2 linked regions of the Homo sapiens genome follow. The protein of the gene in region 1 purifies or fractionates together with the protein of each later gene. This does not show direct contact. Each region holds a gene or a part of one and is shown on either strand. Other genes may lie near its edges.

The links. The genes of interacting proteins can lie anywhere in the genome.
Region 2: the proteins of ROBO3 (region 1) and CTPS2 purify together in Homo sapiens (affinity purification with mass spectrometry; one large-scale study listed by BioGRID and IntAct). This does not show direct contact.

The regions. Positions count from the first base shown.
Region 1 is NC_000011.10:124,863,872-124,868,362, reverse strand, and holds the start of ROBO3 (roundabout homolog 3 isoform a precursor), read right to left. Parts: upstream 2,932-4,491; 5' UTR 2,786-2,931; coding exon 2,626-2,785; intron 1-2,625. UniProt on the Homo sapiens protein: Receptor involved in axon guidance during development. Acts as a multifunctional regulator of pathfinding that simultaneously mediates NELL2 repulsion, inhibits SLIT repulsion, and facilitates Netrin-1/NTN1 attraction.
Region 2 is NC_000023.11:16,699,170-16,702,669, reverse strand, and holds part of CTPS2 (CTP synthase 2), read left to right. Parts: intron 1-3,500. UniProt on the Homo sapiens protein: Catalyzes the ATP-dependent amination of UTP to CTP with either L-glutamine or ammonia as the source of nitrogen. Constitutes the rate-limiting enzyme in the synthesis of cytosine nucleotides.

The sequences.
Region 1 (4,491 bases):
ACAGTTTGTTCTTGACTTCTGCAAGGTCCTGGCTCAGTGAAATTGGGAATGTGGACTGGCTTGGGATCCCTTATGAAAGGCAAGACGGGAGTGACAGGGCCGGGCCTAGAAGGGCTTGTCAACCTGGATTCTATGAATCGGCACAGGGCCCTTCTTACTGACACCCCGGATAATCACGCTTCATTTCAAGGGTCCTGTGAAGTCACAGGAATTGAACGCAAATAGCAGTAGAAATGTTAGTAAGGCTCCTTTTCCTGACAGGTGCATAGTTTCCAATAGATTATTCTACTGATTGATGTTCCTCTACTTCCCCTGTTCACTCCGATCAGTTCATCCACATATTCTGTCCTACCTGTCACTTGGCCTGCAGACTTTGGCCTGTTTCACCTTCTGCAGCACGGTTAGGATCCCGGAGCCTGTTATACTCCGGCACTCTCAGCCCCTAGTCCAGCCAACAAAAGTGGATTTGTAACCCGTGGCGGCCAGTAGGTGCCACTGCAGCCTTTAATAACCTGCTGTAAAATAACCAGGGACCACTTCAAGCATCTGTTCTGCCCCCTGCCCCCTCCCCCTGTTCCCCCCTTCCTACCCTGTTCCAAAATCTGCAGGAACCTCCCGCTTCCAGCCCGCCTGTGAGATTGGGTTTCATTTCCTGCCCCCCCTCTTAGAAGTTCTGTTGTAGACAAAGCTGGACAGGCTGACCCGTGCTGGCGCTGTTCTGAGTTTATTTTAATTGCCTGGAGTCAAGAAGATCGATTTCTGTCCCACTTGGGAGAGTAATTTTCTCCATCTCCTCCCTTCCAAATGGAAATCTCTGCTTTTCACCCTTCTCTTCTCCTCCATCTCCTCCCATTCCCAATTTTGGAACACCCCGTGGTGAGCAACACTGGAGTGATTGAGAGCAAGTGTTGCTGTTGAACCAACCAGGGCTGGAATCTCAGACTTTGACGCTTCCTAGCTGTAAGAACTTGGGCAAATTATTTAACTTCTCTCAGTCTCAGTTTCTTTCTTTGTGATGTGAGAGCAGTGATAGGGTTGCTCTAAGACCATAATGTATGTAAAGCCCTTGGGGGATAAACGTCACTACTCTGCCATTATTTAAGGGCTTGTGTTCCCAGCATATGCACCTTATCTTGGCTCCTACAGTCTCTACCTGAATCAAATTCTACCAGGCCCCAATATTCTTTTTTCCCCTTGGTATAGCCCTCAGGTGTAATGGAAATGGACTGATCTGTTATCGCTAGGTTTTGCTTCATGCTGCTTTTGTGACGATTAGGGCACCATTCACTCTATAAAGCGTTTTCTCGGCGGCAAAATGTGTCTGTCAACACCTTCCTTGCATACCTCACTAAGTTTCGAGCTTAGATGAGACAAAGTATGGTGAAAACACTCTGTAAACGCGCTAGGTGAGCAGAAGCGGGACTCTGCGGGGTGCCAGCGAGAAGGGATCTGTGCTTAACCTCCTGGAAATCTAGGAGGGTCAAGAGGTTGGAGAATCGGGCTCCTCCCCCATCGTCTTTCTCCCCAATCCTTCTATACGGACCACACCCTTCTGGTCGGCCTTTTCCCCCTAATTCCTGTAGACACAGCTGCAGGCGCCCTTTCCCTGGAATTTCCCCCTCTACCCTTCCCGGTCTCAGGAGATGCTTCGACTGCAGCCTAATGAATAGCTAATGGCCATGCTAATGAGGCTCTGGGGCTCCTCCCTCAGCACCTGATGTGCCCCACACATGAACACACACATATTGCCAGGGTCTCCTTTCTCTCCACCTTCGAGTCCCCAGCACAGTGCTCGTCACTAGACTCGAGTGGGTCGAGGCAGAGGGATGGGGACCGCGTGCACCTGGAGGGAACCACACGCGAAAGCGCCCGGTAAAGCGGGGGTTCCCGATGCGGCAGGCAGGGGGCGCGCTCCGGCCTCTCCGCAGGCTGGCGGCGGCCGGCTCCCGCAGCTTCCCCGCGGCGCTAGGGGAGAGCGCGCTGTCCCAGTCATTTATTAATCACCGTAATTAGCGGTAACGACCTCGCCGCCAGCTCCGCCCGCCCGCCACAGCTCTGCCGGGGTGGGCCGGCTGAGAGTCCCGCCGCTGAAAGACAAACTTCTAAGTTTCCTTAAAATGATCGCCGCCCCTATCCCCTCCGTAGCAAACACATCCAGCATTTTGGCTTCCTCTGGTCCTAAGTGAGTTCTTGGGAAACTTCGGGGTTCCGAAGACCAGCTGCCTGGGTGGGTCACCGAGTGACCTGGCTTGGCCGAGGCCGGCGGGAGACTGTGCCCCCTCCTCTGCCCTCCCTGCGCTGGGCCCGGGCCTTTCTTAGCTCGGACTTCCCTGCCCGTTACCAGCAACGGTTCTTCTCACCTGGGGTGGGCGTTGTAGGGGAAGGGAAGGAGGTGTAAAAAGACTCAGTAGCCATCTTCTCCCAAGCCCTCGACCTCCCGCGGGTACCCCCACTCATGTGCTCGAAGCTCCAAATTATCCCTTAGACCCCACGACCCAGGGAGGCGCTGGGAGGCGCCACTCAATCCCGGACCTCGGGACAGGAGCGCTTCTCCTTCCCTTCCACGCCGCCCTCTCACCTCATCCCCATCCCAGGATCCCATATCCCCAAGAGGCAGGGTCTCACCGTTGAGAGAGGGATCGCCGGGAGGCAGCAGGGTGTGGTTGAGCGCCGCCAGCGAGGAGTTGAAGCCCAAGAGCAGCTCGCTGGAGTTGGAGATGTCCCCGGCCAGAGAGTCCGCGAACAAGTTCATCTGCAGCAGCGTTTTCAGCAGGTAGCGCAGCATGGCTCGACCCAGCTGGGATCGGGACTGGGGGCTGGGGGCCCAGCCCCTGGGTCTGAGACCCGTGGGCTGGGAGCCGTAAGCCCCTCCACAGCCTCTGCGCGCTGCGGCAGCCACGGTGCCGCTCTCCTGCCGGTGCGCCTGGGTACGGTCGGTGCCTCTTCGTGCCCTCCTCCTTCCCTCGTCCTTCTCTCCACCCCCTAGTGCCGGAGTCCCCTGGGAGCTGGGCAGGCGGAAAGCAGGTGCCACGCCGATCACGGCGTAATTAAGGGATTAATCCGCCTCCCTCCACCCTCCCACCCTTACCTCTACAGTCACTATCCGAGCAGGAGACACGAGTAGCGTAGCGCGCGAGTTGGAGTCCCCGCCCCGCACCCCAAGCCCAGCGTTCCGTTCTGGACGCGGCGAGAGATTTTCCCTGTCTCAAAGCACCCAAGATGAGGGACGAGGCTCTGTCGGACTCTGCCCTTCTGCCCAACTTTAGAACAGGAATCTGTCCTCTCTTTTCCCGAACCTTTTGGAAACTGAGGCAAAGCGCAAGCAATGCTCCTTGCTGCCAAAGTTCTGGTTTCCATTCCCTCCCAAGTCTAGGGGTTTGGCGACGGAAGGGCAGGAGACTGGGGTGGTTTGCAGCAAGAGTTGGGAGTAGGCAGAGAATTCCAAGACAGGTCCACCTCTCTGCCCTCTGGTCCTTTGGTCTGCAGCCAGGAGGCCAGAGGATGGAGCGGCGCGCCCTGACCCGGGAGTCCTGCTCCAAACGCCCTAATCTAGGAGTTCCTGTAGGAGACTGAAAGCCAGGGAAACCCAGGCAACTGTCATTTATTTGAATCCTTTTACATTACCCTGCTTTGACATTTTTTATTAAATTGTTTTACGTTTTTGAGGAGACTGAAATGGAACCAAGGATTCTAGGACAAAAACAAAGATAATATTATTTTTGTAAAGGCATGTGGGATTGCTGCAAAATTAGTGCAAATCTGTTCAAATCGGATAGCAGTCGTCCTTCCTGGGGGGGGCGAAAAGAAAACCATGGGCCCCTACTCCCACCTCCCACTTCCAGTCGCGGTCTGCTTCTGACTTTTCTGGAGTTCTTTCTACCTGAAGACCCACCTCGACAAACTCACTTTCCTAGACAGGAGATGGCTTTGGGGTATCAGGGAAAGAGAGAGGCCGGGGCATTCCTAACCTGAGGTAAGGCCCTGCTGATTGAAGAGTCAGTGCCAGAGTTCTGGCTCAGCCGTCAGGTTCTGGGATGAGACAACTTTCATGGGGCGACTGCTTCTGACCCCAAAGGGGTCGAGATCAGAGGGGTGGGTGCTATACAGTCGCAGACTCTGGAGTAAGCAGAATCAAGAATTGAAATATTTCAGGCAGAGCTTGTTCAAGGGAACCCGAGACATTGTCAAGGGGTGGGGGGCTTGTTCCAAGCCTCCTTCCTCAGTCCAGGCGCCTGGCTGTGAGCCTCCAACTATGGGTGTTTAGGTGCCTTCCAACCCTAGCAGTTCTGGGCGGGACGTAGAAAGGCTGGAAGCACTAGGTGTGGGGGAGGGGGTAGGTGGGAGTGGGGGTGGGGCCGGATGGACCCCCCACCCCACCGCCACGCAGCGCCCTGGGAGCTGTCCTTTTCAGCACCTCATCTGCAGGTGCCTGACTAGGGCCCTGGAGCCCCCAGGGAAGACATAAATCCGAGCAGACCCTGAGGCTGAGGA
Region 2 (3,500 bases), on another chromosome or scaffold:
AATTTCTTTAGGATGTAGTTCCAGATTTAGAGTGACTAGATCGTATGCTATGAATATGTGAATTTTCTCATGGTCATTGATACATTGTTCATACCTCTGATGACATTCCAAATTAATCATCCCTTTTGGAAACATTGTATCTTTTGCACTACAGATTCTGTTTTATTTTTAACATAAAGGTAGTGTGTTTCTCTTAACATTTCCCACTGCCTGGAGTAACTATTATTAATGGTGACATTTTGATGTATGAGTATATTTGATTTATTTTTAAAATGGCATTAGCCCTTACATGCTATTTTTAAAAAACTTTTTATAAGGCCCAGTGCGGTGGCTCATGCCTGTAATCCCAGCACTTTGGGAGGCCGAGGCAGGTGGATCACGAGGTCAGAAGATCGAGACCATCCTGGCTAACACAGTGAAACCCTGTCTCTACTAAAAATACAAAACATTAGCTGGGCGTGGTGGCACGTGTCTGTAGTCCCATCTACTCAGGAGGCTGAGACAGGAGAATCACTTGAACCTGGCAGGCGGAGGTTGCAGTGAGCCAAGATCGAGCCATTGCACTCCAGCCTGGGCGACAGAGCGAGACTCTGTCTCAAAACAAACAAACAAACAAACAAACAAAAACAACAAAAAACCAACCCCCAAAAAAACCTTTTTATATACAAGCAAAAAAGTGCATAAATCATAAGTGTACAGTTGGATGAATTTTCATTAAATGAACACACTGTGTAACCAGCCCCTGATCAAGAAACAGAAATGTTCATGTCCTGCCGGGCGTGGTGGCTCACGCCTGTAATCCTAGCACTTTGGGAGGCTGAGGCGGGCGGATCACGAGGTCAGGAGATCGAGACCGTCCTGGCTAACACGGTGAAACCCCGTCTCTACTAAAAATACAAAAATTAGCCGGGCGCGGTGGCGAGCGCCTGTAGTCCCAGCTACTCGGGAGGCTAAGGTGGGAGAATGGCGTGAACCCAGGAGGCGAACTTGCAGTGAGCCGAGATTGCGCCACTGCACTCCAGCCTGGGTGACAGAGTGAGACTCCATCTCAAAAAAAAAAAAAATGTTTGTGTCCCTTGTTGCTATCCTGTCTTCCTGTTTTTGTTTTTTGAGACAGGGTCTCACTCTATCGCCCAGGCTGGAGTGCAGTGGCCAAGATCTCGGCTCAATGCAACCTCCACCTCCTGTGCTCAAGTGATCCTCCTGCTTCAGTCCCCTGGGTAGCTGGGATTACAGGTGTGCACCACCACACCTGGCTAATTTATGTAATTTTTTTATAGAGCTGGGATTTCGCCATGTTACTTAGGCTGGTCTCGACCTCCTGGGCTCAAGCAATCCTCCTACCTCGGCCTCCCAAAGTGGTGGTATTACAGGCATGAGCCACTGCAACAGGCATGAGCCACTGCACCAGGCCTTGAATATCGTGTTTTAAACTTTACTAACCTGAGAATAAAACAAACAAAAAGAGGGTATCTTATTGTTTTAATTTAGAGTTCTTTGATTTTGATTTTGTTTGTGAATGACTTATTCAAGTCTGTGGTAGATTGTATTTTTGCTTCAAAATGTTACCCACCATCCCTCTGTGGAGTACATTTCCCTGCCCTTTGACCTTGGAGTTTGGCCACGTAGGATAGTTAACTTGTCCTGGTTTGTTTGGAATGTTCCTGATTTTAAAACAGAAAGTCCTGTGTCCTGGGAGCCCTCTTAGTCCTGGGCAAACCAAGCAGGTTGGTCACTCTATTTGGCCATGTGATTTATTTTGTCCTATGGGATGTTAGGGAATATTAACATATGCCTTGTTGAAGCAGAAAATGTCAAATGCATCTGTGTGGTTTGGCTCAGTCTGTCTTGTGCTTCTGCCCTCTACCATGAGAACAGCCTGGTTTTCAGAGATTTCTCGTTCAGTCTGGGTCCTGGAATGAGAAGACACAAAGAATAGACTCACAAGTGACTCATAGCCCCCATGTAACATGAGGGAGAAATAAATAAATGTTTTGTAAGTTGCAGAGATTTTGGGGTTGTTTGTTGTGTGGCACCATTGACTAATGCCATGTGTTACACCAAATTTTCTTTGGATTTTTTTTTAATGATTTTTTTTTTCTTTTTTTGAGACAGAGTCTCACTCTGTCGCCCAGGCTGGAGTGCAGTGGTGTGACCTCGGCTCACTGCAACCTCCGCCTCCCAGGTTCAAGCGATTCTCCTACCCAGCCTGGCAAACATGGCGAAACTCTGTCTCTATTTAAAAAAATAATAGGCCGGGCACGGTGGCTCACGCCTGTAATCGCAGCATTTTGGGAGGCTGAAGCAGGTGGATCACGAGGTCAGGAGATGGAGACCATCCTGGCCAACATGGTAAAAACCTGTCTGTACTAAAAATACAAAAAAATTAGCTGGGTGTGGTGGTGCACACCTGTAATCCCAGCTACTCAGGAGGCTGAGGCAGGAGAATTGCTTGAACCAGGGAGTCAGAGGTTGCAGTGAGCCGAGATCGCACCACTGCACTCCAGCCTGGCGATAGAGTGAGACCCTGTCTCAAAATAATAATAATAATAATAATGGTAATACAAAGATTAGCCAGGCGTGGTAGTACATGTCTGTAATCCCAGCTACTTGGGAAGCTGAGACATGAGAATTGCTTGGATCCAGGAGGCGGAGGTTGCAGTGAGCTGAGATCACGCCACTGCACTCCAGCCTGGTTGACAGCGAAACTCTGTCTCAAAAAAAAACATTGAAAAAAAAAATTGAAAAAAAAAGTATTGTGATATCAATTTGCTTTTTTCCTTAAAATTAATTTTCTAGACCACAGTTATGTACCTTAGAATGGATAAATAAATTAGGATATAAAAGGCTTCTGATTAAATTTGTAAGTTAATCAACCTTTTTTCCTGTGGACATCTAACAGTAGGAATAAATGATAGTTCCCTTAATAGGGGAAAGGTTCAATTCTTACAAGGTGGCTTTAGAAACATACGACTCTCAGTCCATGCCCTGAAGTGACAATAGAGATCTACAGACGTGTCTAGTAGTTAAAGTTGGTGCTCCTCGTGTGACGAAGTCTGCACCTGTCTTTTATGACAGTGCATTGTGCACGTAGCTTATGGCACACACAGGCTTTTTCCCTCACTTTCACCAAGTTGCCTTATGGGTTAGCTGTGGCCTTGCTTTGTCATCTACTGTCTAATTATGGCTTTAATCAAGATGAGAATCAAGTAAAAGTTTCTTATCGCAGTTCCAGAGTCCAGGATACTGATGCTTTGAAGTAAAATGCTGTTTGTTTTTAAAATTTCTGTTTTCATGTCTTTTTTATGTGGCATATGTTGAGTTTGGAAAAGCTAAATCTTGAAGACAGAATTTCAGTAGATTAAAAAAAAACCACAATAGAATATTATAAATAGAATTTTCTGATGCATTTTCTTGGATATAATTGAATTGTTAATATCTCCACCAAAAAGGAGATGGTGATAGAATATGGCTTACAAATACATCTTTTACCAGCTTTT